7 linked regions of the Homo sapiens genome follow. The protein of the gene in region 6 interacts with the protein of the main gene of each other region in a pairwise test. Each region holds a gene or a part of one and is shown on either strand. Other genes may lie near its edges. The genes, in order: FGF14, DRC4, CAPN3, EBP, OPRM1, EHHADH and IKZF3.

Region 1 (4,645 bases), on a different chromosome or scaffold from region 6:
TACAGAAAGAATCACCTATCTGTGAAGTCACGGGCACAGCTCACAGAAAGGTGCTGTGGAATTGACTTCTTTGGAGTCCTATGATGTGAACATTTCATCTGAAAAGATATAGTGTCAGAATCCTTAAGGTATCCACCGAGAATAAATTACTTCCTCTACATCAAGCATCTTCTTCTCTTCCATATTCAACACAGTGAATTCATAATGGAGACAATACATCCCTAAGTTGCTGATGGTGTTGCAAGCACCATTCATGTTTTGGACATTATGGCAGTGACGATCAGAAGAGAATCCTGTGGACCTACGTTTCTGGTGTTTGTAGCAACAGGATGAGCATCAGTGAGCCAGGTTCTGGGCAGAGACACCCGAAGCCCAGGAGGCAGAGCCAGATTCCCCTGACTTCCACTAAGTGACCCACTAAGTCAGCTCTCAGCATGTCACTCATAGCTGATTTTGAGATAGGTTTTTAACTGGTAAGCAATATGCTTAGGTGCCCTGCCCTGTCTCAGTAAAAAGACAAGTGAAATGCCAAAGTCTAATCCTTTTGTTTGAGAAAGTATAGTTTCAACCAATATATTTATTAGTCTCTTGGGGAGAAGCCAGATTTATAGCATTCCATTTTGTTTTACTCACAATAAATGCATGAACATGTACTGTTTTATCAATCTTTTTTTTCGGGCGCATGGCCTGGACATTGACTCAGTGGACTCTCATTTATTAGTGAGAAAACTAATTGGAGGATATATGGAGATGCAGAACTCAGTAGAAAGCCAGAACATTTATTTGGATGGGATCTTATTCTAATCTGAGGTAGCATCATCAAGAAGAAATAAAGATCTACATAAGTTGCTCCAGGAGGGGGCTAAACCTGTCATTTGGCTATTGTGATTTCATCAAATTGATCACTGTAACTGTCATCTTTGTCTTGAAAAGCATCTGCCACTAACAAAGGCTGTTCCCCTTGGAAAACTATTAGCTCTCAGTGAATGAAAGTTATTCAGCACACTGAATAAATTGTCTCCTGCATGAGACAGCATTTGATAATTCACACTTTTATGGGGAATATTGAAAGGAAATTTCTACATGACATTAGGTCACATTCCTAATTACAGTTAGCATAAAGTCAAGCCCTTAATGTTTTAGTTTTTAGCCCCTAAGGAATATTTTTCAGAACAGGTATACAACATTTTTAGAAGAAAACCAAAAATTATTATTTTCTGCAATAATAAAATCTATTAAAGAAAAATGAAAACTTTGTGTATATTTTTTAGTCCAGTGGTATTTTCAAAAAGATCAAGGACAGTAAGGATCTATTTTCCATCTATATTTTATATACATATAGAATAGCACAGTGTTGGACCTATTTAAAACTAGCTAGGTGTCTTTCATGGTCTATAACCAGACAGGTTGAACTTCAAATTTATTTTTAATAGAGGGCTATCAAAAATGCATATGTAGATTGTACCCTTATTAATTTTTTATTTATTTGGCATGGGATTATATTCATTATTATTCATCCCAAAGTAAGAAGTATATAAAAATCATCTGTGAATATTTCTGACATTAATAATAATTGTAAAGTAGTAAGCTTTGTGCTGCTCATCAATTAATGCAGACCATGGCATTGAGCATAATAGTATTTAACAAACTGTATGCTTTCCAAAAATGCTGTGTGGTTTTTCAGTTGGAGCAGCTTTTGATGTTTATCTTCAAGAGTTCCAACGGGACTCAAACCTTTGGAGCCCCATTGAATTATTTTCAGCTACTGTCACTATGACCAGCTAACATGACACCTAACCTCATCTGGTTATACAATAGCTCTAGTGGCTGGCAAGTAAGCCAGCTGATTGTCTAAGTTTTAGTTTGAGGTTTCAGTTTGTTCCTTTGTAAGTAAAATGTATCACCCTGTGATTTCAGTGATCCAAGGAGCAACTGGCAACTGTAGAGTATTATATCACTGTTCCTATGGAAACATGTAAAATGGATTATAAAATATCTGAAATGTGTATTTTATTTGGTTCACTTTATTGTGAATATCTGATGCTACTTTAATGCTCCCTTTCTGATTATACTCTGGTTGAATTGTCTTCTGTTTAAGTTAAATCTTTAGTTTGCTCATGTATTGTTTTCTTATGATATACTTTTGCTTCTATATATTTTCAATAATAGTAGGTTCTTCTCAATTTATTGTATATTTTAAAAATGTATAGACAATTACTGTGCGCAGGAAGGGGTATATCCGGTCCTCCATGCCAAAGCACTCTTTCACCATGCTGGGAAACTTTCTAGAGAATGAGTAGAATGTACAGTGAAGATCAAGTTCCTTCCTCTAACTTTTGTTTCATTTTCTCTCCACAGGAACTTTTTACCCCTGAATGCAAGTTTAAAGAATCTGTTTTTGAAAATTATTATGTAATCTACTCATCCATGTTGTACAGACAACAGGAATCTGGTAGAGCCTGGTTTTTGGGATTAAATAAGGAAGGGCAAGCTATGAAAGGGAACAGAGTAAAGAAAACCAAACCAGCAGCTCATTTTCTACCCAAGCCATTGGAAGGTGAGTATTATGCATGCATTATTATTACATAGACTTATTACATATTTTATTTTTCAAATTGATAGGTCTACCATGGCTCTAAGAAACCTTCACAAAGTGCTGGAAATGTCATTTATTTTGATCTAGGTGATGGTTGCACAGGTGCCTACTTAAGTTATTGATTTAGAATTTGTGCCCCTTATACACTTTACTATATTTGTGTATGTATGTGTACCAGGAAAAATTTCTTCTCTGCCACCTCCAAAGGCTCAAATCCTCACTGCTACAACCACTCTAACCCTTAGATAATTTAAATTAATTAAGTTAAAACAATTTTAAATCTGTAATGATACAAATCTGCGATGATAAGTATATTAGAAAAAGATAATAAGTATATTAGAAAAAATAAGTTTTGAGCGTGGAATCAAAAGTATTTTCCATTTTGATATTATCTAGGTGAAAGTAATTACCTACTTGTGGATTATTATAATTACAGAAAAATAAGAGATAATAGCTTGACTCTTAAAGAACTTGCTGATATTACACATCTGCTTTCAAATTGTGTAATTCTTCACTGTATACATTTGTAGCATTACTTCTTTTACTAAAATAATTTATCCACATTCATTTGTGTGCAGGAAGGGGTATATCCAGTCATCCATGCCGGATGAATGGAAATTTCACATTTACTCCAATCAGATACCCAAAGAGCAGGCTACAAAGTTTTTTTAATTAATCAACAACATCTGCACCTCTCTCATTAATGATTCTGCCAAAAGTGTCATTTACTTTTATCTATGTAACATTTGAGAATTACAAAAATATTTGATTTTAGGATATTCACATGTGTTTCTATTCAAGTTCTTTTGTTTACTCTTTTGCAGAAGATCAGATCTACAATAACTCAGTAAATATTTTAAGCTAGCTTGGACAGCTCAATTTTCTTTTTGTGTTTTATTCCTACAGGAAAGGCTTAGCCATCACGAGAAAATGCATATTGTTTTCATAATGCATATTCTCTATATTGAAATAAAATAATTTAAAAATTTGAACAGTCAATTCTTCATCATCTGTGAGTGTATAATTTTCAATTTGCCTAAATTCAGAAAATCGCTCTTGTTGGCTAATACTACTTCTGTAATTTCAATGATGTTGACTTAGTGTCACTCTTAATTATATTTTTCTGTAGAACAATTTATTGAAACCCAAACAGTTAGCTACCAGGGCCTATACAGGAAAAGACAGATTATTCCAGAGTCTGAAATATGAGTGAATTATTCTCAGTATATGGTGGATCATAAGGATGATTAGAGTAGAAAGAAGTTAGAGGATTTCCCTGTTCCTCCCAAAAAAAACACATCCATGATACACTTTCATTGTTTTAAATAAATTTTGATAACATTGGACTCACCTATATTTAAATGCAAATAAAAAATTAAAAAATAAGCCCACAGAAGCTCTAATAAGACCATTGTTTATTTGCCACCGTGCTTTATCTCTTTTCACTCATTTTATGTTTTGTAAATAGTTAAGAATTGACTAGATTTTTAGAACCTTACCCTTTAGCTGCATAAATGTAACAAAACCCAAAAGGGCTGTTATGTCATTTAACCGAGGTAAAATTTGGGAACCAGTTATTTTGCATATCTCATAGAAAATATCTGAGACAACAATGATGTGGTATAGAATGATACTTGGTATTTCACTCATGTATTTGTTATGTGTATATGAGTGTTTTGTGTGTATATATACATATATATATATGAGAAAGAGAGAAATAATACTTTTTATGTTTTCAAAAAATTAGCAGAAGTACTCTAAAAACAGTTAAGGGGGTAGGTACTATAACGACAGAGATTATCACATTGTTTACTTGATAGAGGAAAATTAATTTCAAACTTTCAAAACCCATACCGAATATAAATAATGTTATTGGAAATGTTTGACAAATTAAGTACCTGGTTAATTATTGGTACTCTAGGGCATTCATATCTTTGTTTTATATATATATATATATATATATATATATATATATTTTATTATTATACTTTAAGTTCTAGGGTACATGTGCACAACGTGCAGGTTTGTGACATATGTATACATGTGCCA
Region 2 (4,036 bases), on a different chromosome or scaffold from region 6:
GCTACTTTTCGTATAGTAGAGACGGGGTTTCGCCACGTTGGCCAGGCTGGTCTCAAACTCCTGACCTCAAGTGATCTGCCCTCCTTGGCCTCCCACACTGCTGGGATCACAGGTGTGAGCGGCAGTGCCTGGCCTGGACTGTTGCTGGAGAGGCAGGTTGTGCAAGCTCCCAGTTCTCTGCTTCTTCCTTGTTTTCTCTCCACCCTTGGAGACCTTTTTCTGCTGACAACCCTGTGTGGATGGATGCATCCATCAAACCAGGCTGCTATTCGCTGGATCTCTCAGAACGCCCACTGGAGTCCCCAGGCCGCTCCCGTTGCCTCGGCCAAAAGATGAGTCTCAAACTCCCATCACCTCTCTCTCCTCAGGATGTTCTTGAGTCGAAGAACAGCACCATCAAGGACCTGCAGTATGAGCTGGCCCAGGTCTGTAAGGTACGGCTGTGCCCTGCCCTCCCTCAGGGGCACCCCCTCGGTGCCCAGACTGTTCTAAATGCAGACGGTCTCTGAGGACCCCACCTGTGCCCACTTCGTACCTCGTTTGACAAGGCAGCTGTCACTGTCCCCACGTGAGGGTGCAGTCATAGCCGAGAGCATCTGGATTCTGTGTGGTCTGGGGCAGTGCACTGCTGTCTAGGCCATGTCTCTGCTGGGATGGGTGTAGGGGGGGACCTGGACGCTTCCCTGGTCAGCCCCTTCCCCTGGGCAGGGAGTCAGAAGGTGCTGTGCCCACCGGGGAAGGAAACAGACGTCATTCAACAGGGGAAGGGAGGGCGTGAAGAACCTGAGTGGGAAACACCCAGCCAGGGCCCAGAGCCCTCCCAGACCACAGCTCTGCCCTGAGTGTCCCTGCCCTCTGCCTCCGTCTCGTCATTTGTGGAATAGGAATAGTGACAGCCTCTCCCTGTCGTGCTACCTGAGCCAACGCAGTGAAGGTGCTTGGAGCTGTGTCCCACACGGGAAATGACTGATAAGCCTTTGGCTTTATCCTTCTGCACCGTGATGCTCACGCTGCCCCTCCATGGAGCTGCACTCAGCTCTGGTGGTCCTGAGCGTGGGGACCCTCAGCTCCCTGACACTGCCCTGTCTCCACAGGCCCATAACGACCTGCTGCGCACGTATGAGGCAAAGCTGCTGGCCTTCGGGATCCCTCTGGACAACGTGGGCTTCAAGCCCTTGGAAACAGCTGTGATCGGACAGACACTGGGCCAGGGCCCCGCGGGACTGGTGGGCACCCCGACGTAGCTGCCCCCCTGGGGGGCCACAGCCCAGAGAACCAGCCTAGGAACACTCGGGATGACACCCCTTATCACACCAAGGACAGCAAGTTTTTTAGATTTTATCATCAGCAAATGAAAGCTTTTCACATGTTCTTGCCATCCTCTTTCCTGGCTCTGTGGAGGAGAACCACCTGCAGGACCCTCACCCATGGTGTCCCTGTCGCTCCCTTCCCTGGGTGCCGCACGTCCAGCCTGTGTCCAGGCCTACTCCCTGGTCTCACCTCCGACCACAGTCGGCGGCACCTTCTCAGAGTGCCCCGCACTCACCTGGGGGTTGGGGCAGTGCCGCGCTGTGCTGCCTGTCTTCGCGCCACTGTTGTCCCACCGAATGGACAGCTTTGCAGGTGCTGGCACTAACTTCATTGACACCTGAGTCACAGCTGCCCAGTGGGATTCTCCAGGGGGCCGGGACTTCCCTAGGAAGTGGTGAGCCAATGCTCCCTGATGAGCACAAAGCCCGCTCTGTTGAGGGCTGGGTGGGTGCAGCCAGCGTGCGGGAACGGGCAGGCAGCCTCCCGCTGCCAGTCTTCGCTCTAACTCCCTCGGTAGGTGATGTAGGACCAGGGGCACGTGGAACTTCTGGGCCTTGCTGGTGATGGTTAAAACAACCTGAGATGGAGAGGCCAGGAGAGAGTATAAGGGGATAGCAGCAAACCACCTATCTGGCCCCAACACACCTGAGAGAATTCAGCAGCCCAGACTGAGGGTCTGGGATGGGGTGAACCTTCCGCACCAGAGGGACACTCCACAGAAGCCACAGCCCAGTAAGTCAGGCGCTTCTGCGGCGGCTCCAGTGTGGGGTGAGGCAGTGAGGTTAGGCCCAGAGAGCTGGAGTTGGCTCAGATGAAAACCTCTGTCAACAAAGAGGGGATGAATCACCCTTGGCCCAGCCTCCCCACAAAGCCTGACCCTGGGCAGGTGAGTGACGGGTGTGTCCTCGTAGAGTCTATTGCTGCCTGGACACCTTTCTTTTGGGAGCTCAAAGCAAGTGAGCTCACCTACCTGCCACCGCCCAGGACCAGTCTGCCCACTGCCTAAATGATGCCCGGCCAGCAGGACCTGGCCTGCAGATCCCAGTGAGTCATGAGCCTCAGCCCCCTCCAGCCCACTGGGGCTCTCACCTCCACATGTGGGTAGAAGCTTTCCTGCCCCCTCTTCCTCCAGTAGCCCTCAGTGTCGAAGGTGAGCTTGTAGGTGCCTGCCTTCATCTGGTCCAGGACAGTGACCATCTGGGTCTGTGTAGCTGGGGAGAGGATGAGGCTGCAGAGATGGGGACCAGAAGCCCCCCACCCCAGCTTTCCTGGGTCTGCATCCCAGTGGGCCTCAGACACTGCCCTGCCACCTGTCAGACTTGGGTGAGCAGACACAGTGAGGCTGTTAGGTCCTGCAGTTCCAGAGCAGTCTAGGGACACCACTGCCCTGTCTTTAGGAAATCACAACACAGAGAAGCAAAAAGGGAAAAAGTCTCCCACAATTTATCCCATGAGCAAGAACCACTTTATAGCTGGCATATATTTTTCCAGATTTTCTCTATGCATAAGTATATTTGTTTAAAAACTTATAAAGTGGATTATACTATTTGTATTGTTTTATAACCTGTGGTTTTCACTTAAAATATTGTGTATGGCTGGCTGGGCGTGGTGGCTCACACCTGTAATCCCAGCACTTTGGGAGGCTGAGACAGGCGGATCATGAGGTCAGGGTATCGAGACCATCCTGGTTAACACGGTGAAACCCCATCTCTACCACAAAAAAATTAGCTGGGCGTGGTCACGGGCACCTGTAGTCCCAACTCGGGAGGCTGAGGCGGGAGAATGGCATGAACCCAGGAGGCGGAGGCTGTAGTGAGCCGAGATCGTGCCACTGCACTCCAGCCTGGGCGACAGAGCGAGACTCCATCTCAAAAAAAAAAAAAAAAAAAAAAAAAAAGTGTGTGGCTTTCTGGGTCAATAACTACCAAACCTTCACCCACAGAGTGGGCCTGTCCAACTCCACGGAGCGTCTGTGTTGTGTGCCCTGGTCCCTTATCAGGGTTCTGAATAACCGTGGCTTTGCCCATAGTCACTTCTGGAAAACCTCCCATCATTCTTGCCAGCTGGTCTTTAAAGTGTGCGCTTCTGCTGTGATTAGAAAGAGCAGGCCCGAACAAGGTGGCTCACACCAGTAATCCCAGCACTTTGGGAGGCCAAGGTGGGTGGATCACGAGGTCAGGAGTTCAAGATCAGTCTGGCCAAGATGGTGAAACCCTGTCTCTACTAAAAATACAAAAATTAGCCGGGGGTGGTGGCAGGTGCTTGTAATCCCAGCTACTCGAGAGGCTGAGGCCAAGAATTGCTTGAACTGGGTAGGTGGAGGCTGCAGTGAGCCAAGATCGTGCCACTGCACTCCATCCTGGGCAACAGAGAGACTCCATCTCAAAAAAGAAAAAGAGCATAGCACGCTGGGTGTGGTGGCTCACGCCTGTAATCCCAGCACTTTGGGAGGTCGAGGTGGGTGGATCACCTGAGGTCGGGAGTTTGAGACCAGCCTGACCAACGTAGAGAAACCCCGTCTGTACTACAAATACAAAATTAGCTGGCGTGGTGGTGCATGCCTGTAATCCCAGCTACTAGGGAGGCTGAGGCAGGAGAATCGCTTGAACCCAGGAGGCGGAGGTTGCGGTGAGCTGATGCCACGCCATTGTACTCTAGCCTGGGCAAGAAGAGTGAAACTCTGTCTCAACAACAACAACAACAACAAACATAGCGTGTGTGCATG
Region 3 (5,092 bases), on a different chromosome or scaffold from region 6:
GTTAAATAAGCAAAAACAATACAGTGTGGGTCAGTGCTCTGAATTTCAGGGTGGGATAGAATGCTAGGCTGGGACCCAAACTTATGACAGTGGGGGAAAGAAACCCCACCTTTGCTGTCTATGCCACTGGTGACTTTGAGGGTGGAAGTCAGTCTTTTTGTTGCAGGCAGATAGGCCAGCTTCTGATTGGAGATGCTGCATACCACATGAGCCTGGGCAGATTATACCTATTCCTGTGCTGTCCACATAGCAGATATTCAGTTAATGCCCATTGAGTGGATGCTGATTTGCGTCAGCGAGTAAATGTAGCATTCGACCTGATCTAACTCCAAAGTAATATTAAATTCAGGTCTTCTCTAACAACACCATTTATTGAGTGCTTAAGAAAATCCTGGCACTGTGTAAAATGTATTACATAAATTATTTAATTGTTACCAAAACCTAATAACAGAATGACTGTAATTGTACCTATTTTATAGGTGAGAAATCTGAGACAGAAAGGAAGAAATAACTCACCTAAAGTTACACAGGCACAGCCAATAAGGGGCCAACCTAGACTTTGAACCGAGGTGGTCAGTCACCAGAGACCACTGTCCTCTATTCTGCCTCTCCAAGACTAGTAAAAAGCCCTGGGCATTTTCTTGGAGGGACAGATGGCTAGGCTGATGGTTCCTGCAAGCCCAGACATAGAGTCCTTCAAAGCCGCAATCCCAGGGATCAGGAGGCTGATAGTACTCCCTATTTTACCTGTCACTTCCCACCTTCTTCCATAGCCTCTAATCTTGGATTATTGAGACTGGTCGCATGGGAACAGGCATGACTGCAGCCTAGGACATGCCTCCACTCTGCCATACTTGAAATGTGCTCATCTCCTTACAGCCCAGGGAGCAGCTATTGTGGGTAGAAGACAAGGTGGAGGCCAGGCAGGCACTTCCCTTCCCCAGAGCCACTTATGCTCTCATCTAAGAGCCCTGAAACCAGGTGTGACATCCCAGGAGTTGACAGACAGTCTGGTTCAGTATCTAATTCCAACTTCTGTCTCAGATGCCTAATGTGGCATGGCTGAATGAGTCAACATATAACCTGTACAGTAAGTCCTCACTTAACATCATTGATAGGTGCTTGTAAACTGTGACTTTAACGAAAACATACCGTGTGCTGTAGGGACTTAACTCTTGTTTATATCAGTTAGCCTGGTTTCACTATACAGTACATCATTTTGCTTAAAGTCACAGCTTACGAGAACCTATCGATGATGTTAAGTGAGGATTTTCTCTGCTCAGGTGCACTTTTTTTTTTTTTTAAGACGGAGTCTCTTTCTGTCACCTGGGCTGGAGTGCAGTGGCGTGATCTGGGTTCACTACAACCTCTGCCTCCTGGGTTCAAGCAATTCTTCTGTCTCAGCCTCCCAAGTAGCTGGGATTACAGGCACCCGCCGCCACACCCGGCTTATTTTTGTATTTTTAGTAGAGACAGGGTTTCACTATTGTTGGCCATGCTGGTCTCGAACTCCTGACCTCATGTGATCCACCCGCCTCGGCCTCCCAAAGTGCAGAGATTAGAGACGTGAGCCACATGGCCCAGCAGGACCACTTTTTAGCAGATTCAGTCCCAGTGTTCATTTTGTGGATGGGGAGAGACAAGAGGTGGCAAGGTCAAGTGTGCAGGTAGAGACAGGGATTTTCTCAAATGAGGACTCTGCTGAGTAGCATTTTCCATGCAGACATTTCCAATGAGCGCTGACCCAAGAACATTCTAAAAAAGATACCAAATCTAACATTGAATAATGTTCTGATATCCTAAAATTTTAGGACTAAAAATCATGTTCTCTAAAATTCACAGAATATTTTTGTAGAATTCAGTACCTCCCGTTCACCCTAACTAGCTTTTTTGCAATATTGTTTTCCATTCATTTGATGGCCAGTAGTTGGGTGGTCTGTATAACTGCCTACTCAATAACATGTCAGCAGTTCTCAGCTTCTTTCCAGTGTTCACCTTACTCAGATACTCCCTTTTCATTTTCTGGCAACACCAGCACTTCATGGCAACAGAAATGTCCCTAGCCAGGTTCTCTCTCTACCATGCAGTCTCTCTTGCTCTCATACTCACAGTGTTTCTTCACATCTATTTTTAGTTTTCCTGGCTCAAGCATCTTCAGGCCACTGAAACACAACCCTCACTCTCTTTCTCTCTCCCTCTGGCATGCATGCTGCTGGTAGGAGACCCCCAAGTCAACATTGCTTCAGAAATCCTTTAGCACTCATTTCTCAGGAGAACTTATGGCTTCAGAATCACAGCTCGGTTTTTAAGATGGACATAACCTGTACGACCTTCTGATGGGCTTTCAACTTTGAACTGGATGTGGACACTTTTCTCTCAGATGACAGAATTACTCCAACTTCCCCTTTGCAGTTGCTTCCTTTCCTTGAAGGTAGCTGTATCTTATTTTCTTTAAAAAGCTTTTTCTTCCAAAGCCACTTGCCATGCCGACCGTCATTAGCGCATCTGTGGCTCCAAGGACAGCGGCTGAGCCCCGGTCCCCAGGGCCAGTTCCTCACCCGGCCCAGAGCAAGGCCACTGAGGCTGGGGGTGGAAACCCAAGTGGCATCTATTCAGCCATCATCAGCCGCAATTTTCCTATTATCGGAGTGAAAGAGAAGACATTCGAGCAACTTCACAAGAAATGTCTAGAAAAGAAAGTTCTTTATGTGGACCCTGAGTTCCCACCGGATGAGACCTCTCTCTTTTATAGCCAGAAGTTCCCCATCCAGTTCGTCTGGAAGAGACCTCCGGTGAGTAGCTTCCTGCTTGCTGGCTGGGTTTTCCCCCCACGGAGGAGTCCTCTCACTCAGCACCTCCGGCAGCTCAGCTGTGCACATGGGCACTGGGGGAAGGATCCTGGCAGCAGCTCTGCTGGGCTCTGTCTTTAAGTGTGAAGCAGGGAGGAGAGGAACAGGTCTCAGATATTTCACCAAATCTCAGCAAAATCCAGAGGGAGAGCGCAGGAGGTGGGGCTGATTCTTATGCTCTGGCTCTTTCTCTCTGAAAAAAAAAAAAAAATCTTGCTTTTTATAAAAGTGGGTGGAACTCAGTTTAATTCATCCTGTAAAAATAAATATTCCTTTCTCAGAACAAATTCCAGACAGCCCAGATGTACCTGTTCGTTTTAAATATTATTCATCTTTGTAAGATTATTTCAGTTTCTCTGGCTAAAATCATGATGTTATTCTTCTTTAATTTACCAATGGCCATATCTTTCTGAAACACAGAAACCCTAGAAAGAGAAGAGTCATAGGCAAGGAATATTTTTTCATGCATAAAATGTTGGGGTTAAAGAGAGAGAGACCTAGCAATCGCTTTTGTCCACCTACCTCACCTCATAAGTGAGGAGTCAAGGCACACTAGAGTGAAATATATCTAGTGGGCACATGACAGAGCCCGGATTAAAACTTTCTGTTTTAGGAAACTCTCCCAGCCTCTGGGTTTCATTTACAGTGATCGCCAGGAGGGAAATCACATTCCCCTGGCTCACCTCTCTGATCATCCCTCCAGTGTGACTCTTGTTCTTAATTCGAGAAATATTTATTGAGCATCTACTAGTGCCAGCACTGGGCAAGCAACTGGGGGGACAGCAGTGAGTAAGAAAGACCAAAATTCCAGCTGTCTTGGAACCTAGGGTCCTGAAGGGAAGATGGGCATTGAACAAGAGTGACATTGTCAGGAGACGATGTTCTGGGTGCCACAGGATCATGTGGCAAGGAGAGCTAACCTGGTCCAGGGAGACAAACCCTCTCTGAGGAAATGATGACAAGCTGAGACCCAATACTATTGATTAGCCATGGTTTTCTTTAACCTAAGGTGGGCCAGGCATGGTGGCTCATGCCTATAAACCCAGCATTTTGGAAGGCCCAGGCTGGAGGATTGCTTGAGCCCAAGAGTTAGAGACCAGCCTGGGCAACAGGGTGAAAACCTATCTCTTTTGTACTAAAAATTCAAAAAATTATCCAGGCATGGTGGCACATGCCTGTGGTCCTAGCTACTCAGAGGCTGAGGTGGGAAGATCACTTGAACTCGGGGAGTTGAGGCAGCAGTGAGCCGAGATCATGCCACTGCACTCCAGGCTGGGTGACAGGAGTGAGACCCAGTCTCAAACAACAACAATAACAACAACAAACCTGAGGTGGAGTACTAGACAACCCTGTATATTCCATAGGGGCTCTTCTTGGTTCTATGGTAAGGCCCATAACTGTCCTGAAGGCCTTCAGTTTAGAAGATAACACTACTCTGCTATCAGAGTAGTTGGACATGTCACAACCCCCTGCTGAAATATCTTCAGTGACATCCCTCTCTCGGCCCCCACTGCCTTCAGGACAAGTCCAAACTCCTTAGCCAAGCCATAGGCCCTTCTCAGCTGGTCCCTGCCTACCTGTCCAGGCCCATGTCCATCCTCTTTCCCCAGATCCTGACACACCAGCAGTGCTTGGACATTTAGCTGCTCTGTAGTTCCAAGTCTTCTCACACCGGAGGCCTTTGCTCATGCTGTCTGTCTGCCTGACATGCCTTTTTTGTTCCTATCTGAACCTCTGCTCAGGTGTCACTTCCTTCAATCTTTCTCATGACTGATTTCCTCTCACTGAGAGCAGAAATCCTTCCTGTTCATCTTTGAGGCCCCCTCACCAAGCTCAGGCCAGTCCCATAGTGGGTACTCAGCTGATGCTGGTGAGTGAAAACCCACGCCCAAGGGCCTTGACCAGTGAGACAGGATAGGCCTGCGTTCCCAGGCAGGGAGTTCCTAAAAGCCCTTTCTTGGGCCAGACATGGAGGCTCATGCCTGTAATCCTAGCACTTTGGGAGGCAGAGGTGGGAGCATCAATTGAGCTCAGGAGTTGGAGACCAGCCTGGGCAACATAGTGAGACCCTATCTCTATAAAAAAAGTTTAAAAAAATAAAAGCTCTTTCTCAGAATGGGGAAAATTAAAACCTACAAATACTGTTTTCAGTGAAATCATTGGTGGACTTGAGTCTTCAAGCGAGACTTACAAATTAATAAAAATTCTTTAAGGGCCTGTTATGCTCTAGGTACTAGATTGGG
Region 4 (2,204 bases), on a different chromosome or scaffold from region 6:
GTCTCCCTTGGCATACTCTTTCCCTGAAGAAAAGAAGAGAGAGATATGAAGAATAAAGGCAGTGAAAGGAACACACACTTGTGAGAGCTGGGGGTCCCTGCAAGAAGACAGACTTCATAACCTTCCCATGCGTCTGCTTCCTCATCCGTGAAATGGGGTAACTGTTTGGATTCTAGTGGTTTATTTCTCTAAAACAAGGTAATATGTGTAAAGCCTGACACAAAACAGTGTGGCTGTGATTGGTACTCAAGAAGTGTGTGTGGTATAAAAGGAAGCAGGTGTAGATGATGGAGTGAGTGAAGTAGCCAATGAGAGAGAGAGAATGTAGGTGAACAGATGAGTGAATACAAGAGTGAGCAGAGAATCAGAAAGAAAAAGACCGCCGGGCACGATGGCTCATGCCTGTAATCCCAACACTTTGGGAGGCTGAGGTGGGATGATGGCTTGCATAAAGGAGTTCAAGACCAGTCTGAACAATATAGTGAGACCCCCAACTCTATAAAACATACAAAAATTAGCTGGACGTGGTGGCACGTGCCTACAGTCCCAGGCTGCAGTGGGAGGATGTCTTGAGCCCAGGAGGTTGAGGCTGCAGTGAGCTATGATAGCACCACAGTGCTCAGCCTGGACAACAGGGTAAGACCCTGTCTCAAAAAAAAAAAAAAAAAAGAAAGAAAGAAAAAGATCATCCAATATAAAATAGGCAGAAGACTTGAATAGGTTCTTCACAAAGAGGATTTCTAAATGGCCAATAAGTATATGAAAGATGTTCAAACTTCCATTAGTCACTAAGGAAAAGCAAATTAAAACCATAATGAGATATCACTCACATCTACTGGAATGACTAAAATTTAAGAAACATCTGACCAGCCGGGCACAATGGCTCATGCCTGTAATGTTTTTTTTTTTTTTTTTTTTTTTTGAGACGGAGCCTTGCTCTTATCGCTCAGGCTGGAGTGTGCAGTGGCGCAATCTCAGCTCACCACAACCTCCGCCTCCCAGGTCCCAGAGATTCTCCTGCCTCAGCCTCCTGAGTAGCTGGGATTACAGGCACCTGCCACCACGCCCAGCTAATTTTTAGACTTTTAGTAGAGACGGGGTTTCACTATGTTGGCCAGACTGGTCTCAAACTCCTGACCTCAGGTGATCTGCCCGCCTTCGCCTCACAAAGTGCTGGGATTACAGGCATGAGCCACTCTGCCCGGCCTTGTTTATAATGGCAGAAGATTGAGGGAAAATGCCCATCAATACTACACAAGTCAAGCAACTGTACAATGTCCATGCTTTGAAAGCTCTTTATGAAATCATGAGGAGTGACCTCATTAAAAAAAGCAGCTGGGTGCGGTGGCTCATGCTTGTAATCCTAGCACTTTGGGAGGCTGAGGTGGGCAGATCACTTGAAGCCAGGAGTTGGAGAACAGCCTGGGCAACAAAGCAAGACGCCATCTCTTAAAAAAAAAAGTTGTTAAAAAAAAAATAACTTGGTGGGGTGGCACATGCCTATAATCCCAGCTACTAGGGAGGCTGAGGCAGGAGGATTGCTTGATTGCCCAGGAGTTCAAGGTTGCAGTGAGCTATAATCATGCCACTGCACTCTAGCCTGGGTGACAGAGCGAGACCCCGTCTCAAAAAAGAAAATGGCTTCTTTGGTTTTCTTGTAAGGAAAGAAAGAAAAAGAGAAAAGATTAGAAGTATATATAGCATATTACCATTTGTGTAAAAAGGGAAAAGTGCAAATAATGATAATAATAGTGAACAGTTACATGGCAACCACTGTTTGCCAAACACTGTTCTAAGTATCTTACATATAGTTGGTTATTACTATTATCCTCCTTTTACAATTGAGCAAATTGAGACTTACGTGTGTAAATAAACTGAAAAGAAACATAAACAACTATCAACAGTGCCTAACAGCGTTTGGGGAAACTTAGTGGATAGAAAGCAGATTTTCACTGCAAATCTCTTTAAATGGTTTTTTGACCCACGTGAATATACATGCAACAAAAAAGTTAAATAAGGCTGGGCACGGTGGTGCGCACCTGTCATCCCAGAATTTTGGGAGGCTGAGGTGGAAGGATTGCTTGAGCCCAGGAGTTAAAGAACAGCCTGAGCAACATAGCAAGACCTTGTCTCTACAAAAAAGTGAAAATATTAGCCAGGCATAAAGGTGTGCACCTATAGTATAGTCCCAGCTACTGGGGAGG
Region 5 (4,645 bases), on a different chromosome or scaffold from region 6:
CTGCAGCGAGCCGAGATCGCACCACTGCACTCCAGCCTGTGCAACACAGTGGGACTCCGACTCAAACAAAAAAAATAAATTAAAAAAAAAAGTACTAGGGGTAAATACCAAGACTAAATGGTGCATGTCATTTTAAAATACAAGAATTCCAAGTCTTTAGTCCTCACTAAGTTTAATGTTTATCTGACTGAAATAATTATCTGTGACAGCAGTCTTCAAACTTGTTTTTAGATGTAGACACTTATTTCAAGAACTTGGGACCCAATATATAAAACAGATCACAGAACAACTGTCCAGATGTAACCACATGTTGAGACCAAGAGCACTGCTCACCTTGCACCCCCATGCCACCCACCAGTGCTGTCCCCAAGGGACCACCATAGAATTTCTAGGGCTCCACCAGGCAAAATTTGAAAGCAATGGCTTTCACGTTGTTTCATATCCTTCTCGTGCCCACCTCATGTCCTTCACCTCGCCTTCTACCTCAGCCGTTGATATGGCAGTCAGTTTCCAGACATAACTGAGTAACACTTCACCTTGGCTGCATCTAAATCACTTACTTTCTGCCCTAGGGCTTCTCTACTGGAGTAATTGCCCTCCATAGGAATCAGCCTGGCACTCACAAAGGCACTATTTGGAAGTTCAGGAAAGTTCCCTTGACCAGGAAATGGAAGCCTGTGGAAAAATGCTGCCCTTGCTCCCCTCTCTCCTGAGGTGTACAATTCTGAGGTGCCAACTACAAGGCACATCAGAAGGCCCCGCCCACATTGTGACCGTCTCAAAAACATGCCTCGTTTTCCTCTTCCCTGGTTTACTCTTCTAGTTTCCCACTCCTTGCCAAGCAACCACTTTTCAAAATGGTTCACCTTCACACAAGGTCGTATCTCACACTCTGCTGAATATCCTTCCTGTTATTTTATAATTGGTGACTATACGTTAGCACAGTAAAATCTGTTTAATAAATAGAGCTCTTACAGACCTATCAATAAAGGTTTTCTCTTAACTATCAAAAACTCGTAAGAAAAATTCTGATAGGCAGCACCAGTTAGAACTACCAAGAGAGTTCAGAAGCTAAGCTTTTCCTTCCATTTTTGTTCCTGCCTTGGGATTTAGGAAAGGCTTTTTTGGGTAGGTTTGGCTGAATGGAGAGAGAGTGGGCACCAGTCATGTCCAGTGTTCAGTTTACTTCTTCTTGAGCTCAGGATAATAGGAGCAGAATTGTGTGTGCCATGTAAAGGAAATAAAGCCTCCTGTGCCTTCTGGCAAATTATCTGAGGGTATAAGAAAACAAACAAACAAAAAATCCTGCCACTCCCTTTTCCATTAATTTCATGTTATATAGTAACGTTAAGAGTATCTTGTGATTAATTGAGCTCAAGAAAATTTCAGTCTTCAAAAGTGAGCTGAAGCATCAAATGCAGGAAACGTCATATACAACAAGCATCATATACTGAGCTTACCAAGCAACTCCTTTCTTTACCCATCCTTTCTTGCCTCAGGTAACTTTTTTTCTTTCCCCATCAATTTCTCAGATACAAATTTAGAAAGGAAGAACAGCAAGGAAGAGAAACCTTGCCCTGGCTCAGGGCCCCAAGTGTCAGTTGTGGCTCGACTTCAAGGCACTCTGCGCCTCACTCTCCTTATCTGTAAAAAGGTGCGAATTGGACTAAAAAAATCTTAAACGCTTTCTAGTACTAAAATGTCCTATGGCAACTTCAATGACTATTAAGAGCATGTTTTTCCCAGCAATACAATCTGGAGGAAAAGAGGAATCATCCACAAAACTAAACAATCGTGGTTGCCATTCCATCACAGCCCTTTGGATTCTATATAAGCTCAAATAGGTTCTGTCAAAGGGAGAAAGAGTGAGTGTGCTCTGAACTGCCAGGTGTGGTGTTTATGATTAGGACAATAAGGGAAACAGAAAGTTACAGTCAAGCCTTTATTCATATGCTTCGAGAGTACAGGCAAGTGGTTAAGTGGGAAAAGGTGCAACCCCATCATGTTTCATTCCCCCCACCCCCACCCCACAGAAGCCACCAGGTGAGCATCACATGTTTGAGCAGAAATGCAGGAAGGAGAGGGAAAAGTCATCTTCTTACTGCACTGGGAGGCCCAAGCAAAAGGTCCTGCTGTTTTGTGTACCTGAGGGCCTGGGTGCAAGATGGGGAAAGACAAGGAATGAAAAACAGTGAGTCAGAGTATGTGCTGCCTCCTTAAGGGTTAGGAACGCATAACCTAAAAGCGTGACTGGCAAAGGTGGAGCGTGGGCAAAATTCTCTCTCTCTCTCTCTCTCTCTCTCTCTGTCTCTCATTCTCTGTTTAATTTTTAGGAGATGGTTTTAATATTTGCCTTTAGGTATTAGTCCTATCCTGGATGTTGTATTCCAAATCTGATGCAAAGAGGTTCCACCAAATCTAATCAAGTGAACTTTCGTAAACCAATGGATAGGGCTTTCCCATAAGATGAAGTGTGTGATGGGTTTAAATGAGAGAGAGATCATTCTGTTCTGGATATGTGTCTGTCCAGGCAAAAATGTTGTTAAGTACAATTTTTGTTTGTTTGTTTTTTGTTTGTTTTAAATAATATGTTAGCTTATGCACTGTATGTAAGTAGGTGTCTTCGTGTGTTCAGGCTGCTATAACAAAGTACCATAGCCTGGGTGGCTTACAAACTACAGAAATTTACTCTTACAGTGCTGGAGGCTTGAGGAGTTCATGATGAAAGCACCAGCAGATTCTGCATTTGCTGAGGACCTTCTTGCAGAGACAACTAACTTCTCCCCATTTCTCCACAAGGCAAAGAGGCAAGGAAGCTCTCTAGGGCCTCTTTCATAAGGGCATTAATAGTGTTCATAATGGCTCTGCTCTCATGACCTAATCACCTCCCAAAGGCCCCACCTCCAAATACCATCACACTGGGGAATAGGTTTTCAACATGTGAATTTGAGGGGAACACATTCAGTTTACAGTAGGTGTCCTAAGTGATTCAAATATTAACCACTCATATTCACTGAAAACCATTAGTGTGATTTAAATTAACGTTTACGTAAATTAGGCCAACCTGATTCCTTCACTATCTTCCAATATGCTTCATGTTTATCTCTTCTATACTGTTTCCTTTATTTTTCTTTCTCTCTGTTTTCCTGTAACGTATCTCTCATTCTTTTCCTATCAAAATGTTTCTTGTTCTTCAAGTATCAACTTAAATCCATCCTTTCTTACAGCCTCTCCAAAGTACTCCTACAACCAATTTCCCTGCAATATAACCCAAAATACATGCTACCATTGTTAAAAAAAAATTATGCATTTTCTCATGGCCTTATAAAATGTCACTTGATAAAACTTAAAGACTTGAACTATATCTATCTCTTTGTGTTTAGGTGAGAAATCCAACATTCAAAGTTGACCAACAGAACTGAATATCTTCAAAATACTGTACAATTCTAAGCTATTAGCAATTCAGATGTACCTCAAATTATTCAAGTATAAAATCTAATTTAAATAATTTTCTCAATTCACTTTGTTCATGCATATTTAGCTTTTATCACTTGAGTCATGAAAAGTGATCTGTACCATAGATACATATTAGCAAATCATAAATTCAAATACAAACACATACATGTCTATATATGCATATATTCCTGAGTTTACAAACTTTAAAAAGGGAATATATGGTTACTCTTATAATAAAAACTCAGAAAGTAAAATTTGAAGAAGTAAAAACATAAAAAGTTAATATAGTCAATTCCCATTATTCATGATAGTTATGGTCCATAAAGTCATTATGACTACAGAATTCGTGAGTACTGAAGCTTTGCTTCTAGGGGATATATAGGGCAGGTTCCTGTGAGCCTCTGATTATAAAATTTTCATCAGCTAATGCATTCGTAACCTTGTTTTATGTGTGTTTCTGTTTAAAGACGCTTTATTTAATATATAGCTGATTCACTAACGTTGAACTCATGGTTAACAGCACTATAAATCATGCCTGAACAAAGCTTCTGTAACACAAGTACTTTCCTCATAAGCCACATCACAGTCTTCTTGGCTTAGGGACACTAAGCAGAACTTCCACACTATGTTTGAGACCATTTTAAACAGTGAAGTCACCACCACCACCAACAACAACAACAAAAAAACACAGAAATGTGAAAAATGTGGCAATAAATAGATTGTGAAAAGGACACGTGTTTATAGTACAAGCTGAAAGAAGACAGCAGAGCATTGCCTTGTTTGACCTTACCTGGGAACCTGCACAGAGAGCAACTCAAATTTTTTGCTGCTCTATACATGTCCACACAGGTCCTCAAATGACTGCAAAAGCCAAGTATTATTTTGCGGGTAAATATTAATAGATTTTAGTGAAGAGGCCAATTTTCAAATACAGAATCCTCAAATAATGAGAATCAAATATATATAAAATGTTCCTCAAGGAAATATTTTTGAAACACTAGTAAAGAAGAAAATCAGGAAGCTATGTTCCAAATTAAATATGGTAGCAAATTCATGACATGATGACAAGTTGTATGTTTTATTATAATCAGGTAGAATCGTTTGAAAACAAAATGGATTCCCATATAACTCACTCATGAGTCACCAGATACCCAACCACATCACACAAATTTAAAATATATACAGCGCA
Region 6 (3,608 bases):
TGGCTATTTTGAATAATGCTGCTACTGAACATTCATGTACAAGCTTTATGTGGACATGTATTTTCAGTTCTCTTGGAGATTTAGATATCAGTGGAATTGCTGGATCATAAAGTAACTCCATGTTTAACATTTTGAGTAACTGCTAAACTGTTTTTTGCAGCAACTGTACCATTTAAAAAATTTGCCAGCAATGTATCAGAGTTCTAATTTCTCCAAATCCTCACCAAAATTTGTTATTGTCTGTCTTTTTCATTATTGCAATCCTAGTGGGTTTGAAGCATTATCTCACTGTGGTTTTGATTTGCATTCCCTTAATGACTATTGATGTTGAACACTTTTTCATGTGATTATTACCCATGTGTTGCTTGTGCTTTGGGTGTCATGTCTTAGAAACCATTGCCTAATTCAAGATCACAAAGATGTATCCATCCATCAGACTTACTCCTAAGATCTGCTTCTAAGAATTTTATAGTTTTAGCTCTTACATTTAGGCCTATGATCCATTTTGAGTTAGTTTTGTATATGGTGTGAGGTAAGGGTCCAACTTCATTCTTTTGCATGTGGATATCCAGTTGTCCCAGCATCATTTGTTGAAAAGACTATACTTTCTCTGTTGAATGTTCTTGGCACTCTTGTTAAAAATCAATTGGCCATAATTGTGTGGGTTTGCTTTTGGCTATCAGTTCTATTCTGCTAATCTATATGTCTATCCTTTTGCAATGACCACTATCTTACACTGTCTTAAATACTATAGGCTTCTTTTTTTTTTTTTTTTTTTTTTTTTTTTGAGACAGGGTCTCACTCTGTCACATAGGCTGGAGTGCAGTAGTGTGATCATAGCTCACTGCAATCCTCAAACTCCTGGGCTCAAGATATCCTCCTGCTTCAGCTTCCCAAATAGCTGTGACTATAGGCATGCACCATCATGCCTGGCTAATTTTTGTTGTTGTTGTTGTTGTTGTTGTTGTTGTTGTTGTTACAGAGTTTCAATCTTGTTGCCCAGGCTGGAGTGCAATGGTGCGATCTTGGCTCACTGCAACCTCTGCCACCTGGGTTCAAGTGATTCTCCTGCCTCAGCCTCCCAAGTAGTGGGGATTACAGGCATGCACCACCACACCCAGCTGATTTTGTATTTTTAGTAGAGACGGGTTTTCTCCATGTTGGTCAGGCTGGTCTTGAAATCCTGACCTCAGGTGATCTGCCCACCTCGGCCTCCCAGAGTGCTGGGATTACAAGTGTGAGCCATTGCACCTGGCCCCCTGGCTAATTTTTAATTTTTTATAGAGTTGGAGTCTCACTGTGTTGCCTGGGCTGGTCTCAAACTCCTGGTTCCAAGTGATCCTCTCACCTTGGCCTCCCAAAGTGCTGGGATTACAGGCACGAGCCACCTCACCCAACCTTGAATAGTTTTGTCATACAATTTGAAATTGGGAAGAGTGAATCCTCCAACTTTGTTCTTTTTCAGTATTGTTTTGGCTCTTCTGGATTTCTTGCATTTCTATGTGAATTTTAGGATCAGCTTATTGATTCTGCAAAAAACCAGCTGGGATTTTTATAGGAATTGTGTTGGTTCTTCACATCAATTTGGGTAGTATTACCACCTTAACAATATTAAGTTGTCTGATACAAAAACATTTAATGTTTTTCCATTTATTTGGTCTTACTTAATTTCTATTAACAATGTTTTGTACTTTTTAGTGTACAAATCCTCCTATTCTTTGTTAAATTTCTTCCTGTGTATTATTCTTTTTGATGCTATTGTAAGTAGAATTGTTTCTTTTAATTTTATATTCAGATTGTTTATTTCTAATATATAGAAATATACTTGATTTTTGTATATCAATTGTGTACCTACAATCTCGTTGGACTCATTTATTAGTTTGTATAGCTTCTATTTGTGTGTGTGAATCTGACTAATTTTTATATCCTCTGAAACACTTAAGAGAGTGCAGAGTCTTAACTAGTACTCAATCCATTTGTGTTTCTTGACTCAATCTCTTTAAATGCCACATTGTCACATAAGCCTTCCATCCAGTGAATAATTTATCAGTTCCCAATACCACTGAATCATTCTTTTTCTCCTTTGATTTTTATCTGCAGGCTTGGGAACAATGGGCCGAGGCATTGTCATTTCTTTTGCAAGGGCCAGGATTCCTGTGATTGCTGTAGACTCGGACAAAAACCAGCTAGCAACTGCAAACAAGATGATAACCTCTGTCTTGGAAAAAGAAGCCTCCAAAATGCAACAGAGCGGCCACCCTTGGTCAGGACCAAAACCCAGGTTAACTTCATCTGTGAAGGAGCTTGGTGGTGTAGATTTAGTCATTGAAGCAGTATTTGAGGAAATGAGCCTGAAGAAGCAGGTCTTTGCTGAACTCTCAGCTGTGTGCAAACCAGAAGCATTTTTGTGCACTAATACTTCAGCCCTGGATGTTGATGAGATTGCTTCTTCCACTGATCGTCCTCACTTGGTCATTGGCACCCACTTCTTTTCGCCAGCTCATGTCATGAAGTTGTTAGAGGTTATTCCCAGCCAATACTCTTCCCCCACTACCATTGCCACTGTTATGAACTTATCAAAAAAGATTAAAAAGATTGGAGTCGTTGTAGGCAACTGTTTTGGATTTGTGGGGAATCGAATGTTGAATCCTTACTACAATCAGGCATATTTCTTGTTAGAAGAAGGCAGCAAACCAGAGGAGGTAGATCAGGTGCTGGAAGAGTTTGGTTTTAAAATGGGACCTTTTAGAGTGTCTGATCTTGCTGGGTTGGATGTGGGCTGGAAATCTAGAAAGGGGCAAGGTCTTACTGGACCTACATTGCTTCCAGGAACTCCTGCCCGAAAAAGGGGTAATAGGAGGTACTGCCCAATTCCTGATGTGCTCTGTGAATTAGGACGATTTGGCCAGAAGACAGGTAAGGGTTGGTATCAATATGACAAGCCATTGGGTAGGATTCACAAACCTGATCCCTGGCTTTCCAAATTCCTATCACGGTATAGAAAAACCCATCACATTGAACCACGTACCATTAGCCAGGATGAGATCCTTGAACGCTGCTTATATTCACTTATCAATGAAGCATTCCGTATCTTGGGAGAAGGGATAGCTGCTAGCCCAGAGCACATTGATGTTGTCTATTTACATGGATATGGATGGCCAAGGCACAAGGGCGGGCCCATGTTCTATGCTTCCACAGTTGGGTTGCCCACAGTTCTAGAGAAATTGCAGAAATATTACAGGCAGAACCCTGATATTCCCCAACTGGAGCCAAGTGACTATCTAAAAAAACTGGCTTCTCAGGGAAACCCTCCCCTGAAAGAATGGCAAAGCTTGGCAGGCTCCCCTAGCAGTAAATTGTGATTCAGTCTTCCAGATTATGCCTCACATGCTAGCATCAGGTAATGCTGACTGAATTTCAGTGAAATTAAATCAAAAATCCAAAGTAAGATTGTTCTGAAATACAAAGCAAAATAAATAATCATTAGAATCTTCTGTGTAACGACTCTAATGGTCAAATCTTTAGGAATGTGCTTCCTATGCCTCTGAATCTGTCCTTATCAGATAAATTCAATGCATGAACTTGTGTGAATATAATACCATAATAGC
Region 7 (4,645 bases), on a different chromosome or scaffold from region 6:
GAGGCAAGAGAATCACTTGAACCCAGGAGACGGAGGTTGCAGTGAGTCGAGATCGTACCATTGCACTCCATCCTGGGTGACAGAGCAAGACTCTGTCTCAAAAAAAAAAAAAAAGTATCAACCCCTAATGGGCTGGTAAAATGAGACAGTATGCAAAGTATCTAGGATGGCACGGTGGATACAGCAGGGGCTCAATAAATAGTACTTATCATTATTGGGATTATTGTATATAAGGCACAGTGCAAGGTACTGTGAAATATAAAGACCAGAAGTAAACATATTAGGGTGGTGGGTCTTCCCCCTCAACCCTGCAGACAGAGTTCTGAATCCACTTGCTCAGTTAAGGGCCCTTTTAGCTCTAGCCTGTGATTCTGTACTTCCAAGTTGGCACTTAGAAGCCAACAACCATATGTCCTCACCACATTGCATCAGTTCAGGTCAGGTGGTTTCTTAGTTTAGAGTTAACAAAGCCAAGATATAAGACATTGACACCTTTAAAAAGAACCACAGGTAGGGAATGGCCCAACCAGGCAGCCTTAGTTTCTAAACTTAGGACTTGCTGTTGCCGTGTGTATTTTTGTTGGAAGAAGACCTCTAATTCAGCCTGAAGCTGGTATCATGAATCATTCAAAGGCGTGGTGTGATTTTGACTAGAAGCTGGACCAGATGCTCCGTGCAGGTTTGGAAGCAGTTACACTTTTGTGGTTTGACTAACCTTTTTTATGAGTGTGTTACTAAAGAAACGTGAGCTGTTGGCTTTTCAATTACTGTAGTTTACCCTTTCTGGGTTTCATACACATTGAGTCATCGTGTCTACAGGTGACTGATAATCATCTGCACTGCTCAAGTTACCGTAACTCAGAGACGAGGGGATCTGATGATTGCAAGTTGCATGCACGTGAACATCTGAGGCTGCCCCATCTCCTTAACAATGAACAATGGTCTGTGTTAACTACAGAATTCAGTCACATATTTCCACTCATCCAGGGGTTTATCTTCCTCTTAATGTTTTGCCTTTTACAATTTTAGCACTCAGCTGTTTTCTGACATATGCTGCAGGTGGTATAGATTGTGAAATTGTAGGCCTTGTTAAGTAAAGCAAACTCTTAGGAGAAAGGATAAAATCAGAGTTTGTGATGTGCCTACCCCACCCAGAAACCTTCTGGAGCCTCTCTGTTGGGTGAAAAGAGAAAAAGTTTCTCAAGGACCCCTGGTATTTAGGGAGATGAATAGAGGTGGCCACAGTGGAAAATAACCAATAACCTTAAAAAGGCCAAGAAACCGAAGTTCATCATTTCTGTGTCACATTCTAGGGAATGAATGTCTGTGACCTTAGCTGGCTCTCATGTTCTCAGTCTTCCAGATGGCCTTGACCAAAGATATATCCAATCTGGAAACTGAAAATAAAAAACATTGATTACTTTGGCCAAGGTCTACTCTGCTGTTGCTTCTCATTGAGTTTCCAAGACAGGGTATTTTCGTTTGCATATTTTTTTTCTCTCTCAGGTATTTCTCTGGAAACTATCAGGTTGGCCTTAAGGTCAGCTGCTTGTGGGGATGCAAAGACAAATTCATCTCATGGGAATAGATCTTTTAGCTGGTTCTTCTGGCTCCAATTTCTCACTGTTCTGGTCTGCCTTACACATTGCTGTTACGTTAACCACAAACCTGTCTTTCTCAAGGGCAGGTAGCCTTGGCTCTTGGTTCGGATTCACACCCTACAGTGGGCCATTCGGAATGCCCACCATTCGGTCCTACCATGCATTATCTTTTTTCAGTGTTTCCCCAAATGTAGGATGCAAATTGCCAGCAAGCACATGGAGCATTTAAAAACCTGGGTCCACACAGCAGGATAATTATTTTCTTTCCAGTTCTCTTTCAGTCTCCTGGATCATACTAAGGAGAAAAATTTAGACTTAATTTGATGCCAGTTGTCTTTAACACTAATCTCACACTTGGTAATCTCTGTTTTTAACAAAGGGGGAAGGGATCTTAGTCTCCAAGTACTCACAGTAGTATCCGATCAAAATTTAATGAAATGCTCTGTTTCATTGTCTTTATTTTTCATAGTTACCTTCTACTTGTGGAAAGTGATTCTGGTTTTCCGTTTATGTTAGTGATATAAAGTTTCCTTAAAAACCACATTTATTTTAGAAAAAGAAAAAAAGAAAGAAAATGTGAACCAAATCAAACAGAGGAAAAAAACCCAAGCATTTACCAAGTGTTTTCCATGTGGCAGGCCCTGTTCTAAGTGCTTTCCAGTGACCCTGTGAGGTACATACAATTATCTTCACTTTACATGAGGACACGGAACATAGGTTAAGTGACTTGCCCAAGGTCACAAAACTGGTGACCAATGGAGCCAGCATCAAACCCAGCCCATCTGACACCAGAGTTTATTCTCTCAACCACCACACTGCCCTGGTGTGTGGATATTGCAGAATGTGAAGGAAGAGTGAAGCCTGAGAAATACTGTATTTCATACTTCTTGATCGCGTTTCAGCCAGACTCGCTTTCTGCACACGTCCCGTGTAGTCCCACCTCTCTGCCTTCATTCCTGCACTCCCCCTCAACTAGGATGTCCTCTCCCGCTTCTCTGAAAATCTAAATTCTTCCAGTTCAAGACCCTTCTCAAAATTTAGATTTTCCAAGAATGCTTTCCCTTCCCCAAGTACTTCTGAAGTTTCTGCATTCCCTTAATGCCTAAATATACAATTTATACCAAATTGTCTCACCGATGCCTGTATGTTACCTTATTATTCTTTTTAAAGAACACGTTACTTCCCTGCCTAAATGCCTCAAATGTGGGCATTTAGAATAAAAGCAAAGACCTCCATAGAGCAAAGCAGTCCTTTTACAACTTTTTTTTTTGAGACAAGGTCTTACTCTGCCACCCAGGCTGGAGTGCAGTGGTGCCATCTCAGCTCACTACAATCTCTGCCTCCCAGGCTCAGGTGATCCTCCCACCTCAGCCTCCTGAGTAGCTGGGACTACAGATGCCTGGCTAATTTTTGTATTTTTTTGTAGAGACAAGGTTCCTCCATGTTGCCCGGGCTGGTCTCGAACTCCTGGGCTCAAGTGATCCTCCCTCCTCAGCCTCCCAAAGTGCTAGGATTACAGGCCTGAGCCACCGCGCCCGGCCAACTTTTAACTTATACTTTTTCTCGAGTTCTATATATATATAGGTCTTATTTCTCATCCACTAGGTTGGAGACACCTCAAGAACAGGAACTGGTTCTTCCAATCCTTTTGTTTTCTCATGGCATTTTTTCTTCTTCTTCTTTATTTTCATTGCTGAACCCTTTACTGTAGGGCAGTGACAAATTTTGGAATCTCAACATGACTAGGAAACATTATAGAAGGATATGGTTTAGCAAATCCCTCCAGGATCCAAGCTGACAGAATGGAGAGGCTCAACAGTGACCTCAGCCTCACCTCCAGCACTCGGCTCCACTTCCTCGCTTTCTCTCCCCTCTCCCCACCACTCACCACTGAGCACATCTGCCCTCACTGCAGTCCCCATCCCTGCCTTCCCTGTGACCAGAGAGCCTCTGTTTTCTAACACACAACACCCACACACTCTGAAGGTGGCTAAACTCTGTTTTCAAAACTTCTCAGCAGTTTGACATGAGAAGTAGGAGAGGGTGACCACAAGTATATTTTTTCAGTTAAGTGTGAGATAGGCCCTAATGATCACATGTGTATCAGAGATACACTTGCCAAGCAAAGGAAGAGAAACACACGTTAGGAAAGGGACAAAGACCATGATCTCTTCTCAAGAAAACTTTTCTCAAACTTTCTACATTTGAAGCTCTTTCACTTCAGTCTCAGTCAGCCAGGACGGGTGAGTTTGGGGAGTAGCCAGTTGGAGTCTGGGGGGCTATTTTCTCTATCTCTGTAGCTATTTAAAAAGCTGCCGAGGTGAGGCACCGAGTGTCCCCACTCTTTGCAGCACTTCTGTCCCCCTGGCTACCTAATATTGCAAGCAGAAAATAACAAGCAAAAGCAAAATAAGAGTTGGGAGCCGACTGTGTCTTAAGAGATCATGAACTATAGCAGAAGTCCCAGGCTCCTGTGGGCTGGTGGCTCCCTTGTCCCTCTAGCCCCATCCTAGTGTCCTGCTTCTTTCCCTCCTTTCTTGAGGGCTCTCCTCTAACATGCACAGTGGGCATACCTTACCATGTGGCCTCAACTGAACCACATCTCTGCCCCTCTCTTCTGCCTGCTGGCTTTATTTTAACCATCCAAACACGTTGCTGCCGACCAGTGTCCCCTGAGACAGCACCATGGGAAACCATTCTGCCAGGCTTGGTCTTCTTGAGCAGCAGGCAACTTAACTCTCCTCCCTTTTTGAGGTCTCTAGAAAATATTTACAAACTCTCTGCCTTGGCAGTGTTCCCTTTGTAACCCTTTCTGTCACTTGTTCCAGGTGAGAAGCGCCACTGCTTTGATGTCAACTATAATTCAAGTTACATGTATGAGAAAGAGAGTGAGCTCATACAGACCCGCATGATGGACCAAGCCATCAATAACGCCATCAGCTATCTTGGCGCCGAAGCCCTGCGCCCCTTGGTCCAGACACCGCCTGCTCCCACCTCGGAGATGGTTCCAGTTATCAGCAGCATGTATCCCATAGCCCTCACCC

The links.
Region 1: the proteins of EHHADH (region 6) and FGF14 interact in binary tests that used the Homo sapiens proteins (3 or more experiments, as listed by UniProt).
Region 2: the proteins of EHHADH (region 6) and DRC4 interact in binary tests that used the Homo sapiens proteins (3 or more experiments, as listed by UniProt).
Region 3: the proteins of EHHADH (region 6) and CAPN3 interact in binary tests that used the Homo sapiens proteins (3 or more experiments, as listed by UniProt).
Region 4: the proteins of EHHADH (region 6) and EBP interact in binary tests that used the Homo sapiens proteins (3 or more experiments, as listed by UniProt).
Region 5: the proteins of EHHADH (region 6) and OPRM1 interact in binary tests that used the Homo sapiens proteins (3 or more experiments, as listed by UniProt).
Region 7: the proteins of EHHADH (region 6) and IKZF3 interact in binary tests that used the Homo sapiens proteins (3 or more experiments, as listed by UniProt).

Annotation. Positions count from the first base shown.
Region 1 is NC_000013.11:101,724,524-101,729,168, reverse strand, and holds part of FGF14 (fibroblast growth factor 14), read left to right. Parts: intron 1-2,358; coding exon 2,359-2,557; intron 2,558-4,645. UniProt on the Homo sapiens protein: Probably involved in nervous system development and function.
Region 2 is NC_000016.10:90,042,102-90,046,137, forward strand, and holds the end of DRC4 (dynein regulatory complex subunit 4), read left to right. Parts: intron 1-368; coding exon 369-434; intron 435-800; exon of another isoform or gene 801-1,094; coding exon 1,095-1,244; 3' UTR 1,245-2,859; downstream 2,860-4,036. UniProt on the Homo sapiens protein: Component of the nexin-dynein regulatory complex (N-DRC), a key regulator of ciliary/flagellar motility which maintains the alignment and integrity of the distal axoneme and regulates microtubule sliding in motile axonemes.
Region 3 is NC_000015.10:42,357,323-42,362,414, forward strand, and holds the start of CAPN3 (calpain-3), read left to right. Parts: upstream 1-2,178; 5' UTR 2,179-2,483; coding exon 2,484-2,792; intron 2,793-5,092. UniProt on the Homo sapiens protein: Calcium-regulated non-lysosomal thiol-protease. Proteolytically cleaves CTBP1 at 'His-409'. Mediates, with UTP25, the proteasome-independent degradation of p53/TP53.
Region 4 is NC_000023.11:48,524,808-48,527,011, reverse strand, and holds part of EBP (3-beta-hydroxysteroid-Delta(8),Delta(7)-isomerase), read right to left. Parts: intron 24-2,204; coding exon 1-23. UniProt on the Homo sapiens protein: Isomerase that catalyzes the conversion of Delta(8)-sterols to their corresponding Delta(7)-isomers a catalytic step in the postlanosterol biosynthesis of cholesterol.
Region 5 is NC_000006.12:154,045,162-154,049,806, forward strand, and holds part of OPRM1 (mu-type opioid receptor), read left to right. Parts: intron 1-4,645. UniProt on the Homo sapiens protein: Receptor for endogenous opioids such as beta-endorphin and endomorphin. Receptor for natural and synthetic opioids including morphine, heroin, DAMGO, fentanyl, etorphine, buprenorphin and methadone.
Region 6 is NC_000003.12:185,191,980-185,195,587, reverse strand, and holds part of EHHADH (peroxisomal bifunctional enzyme), read left to right. Parts: intron 1-2,100; coding exon 2,101-3,362; 3' UTR 3,363-3,608. UniProt on the Homo sapiens protein: Peroxisomal trifunctional enzyme possessing 2-enoyl-CoA hydratase, 3-hydroxyacyl-CoA dehydrogenase, and delta 3, delta 2-enoyl-CoA isomerase activities. Catalyzes two of the four reactions of the long chain fatty acids peroxisomal beta-oxidation pathway.
Region 7 is NC_000017.11:39,766,278-39,770,922, reverse strand, and holds part of IKZF3 (zinc finger protein Aiolos), read left to right. Parts: intron 1-4,429; coding exon 4,430-4,645. UniProt on the Homo sapiens protein: Transcription factor that plays an important role in the regulation of lymphocyte differentiation. Plays an essential role in regulation of B-cell differentiation, proliferation and maturation to an effector state.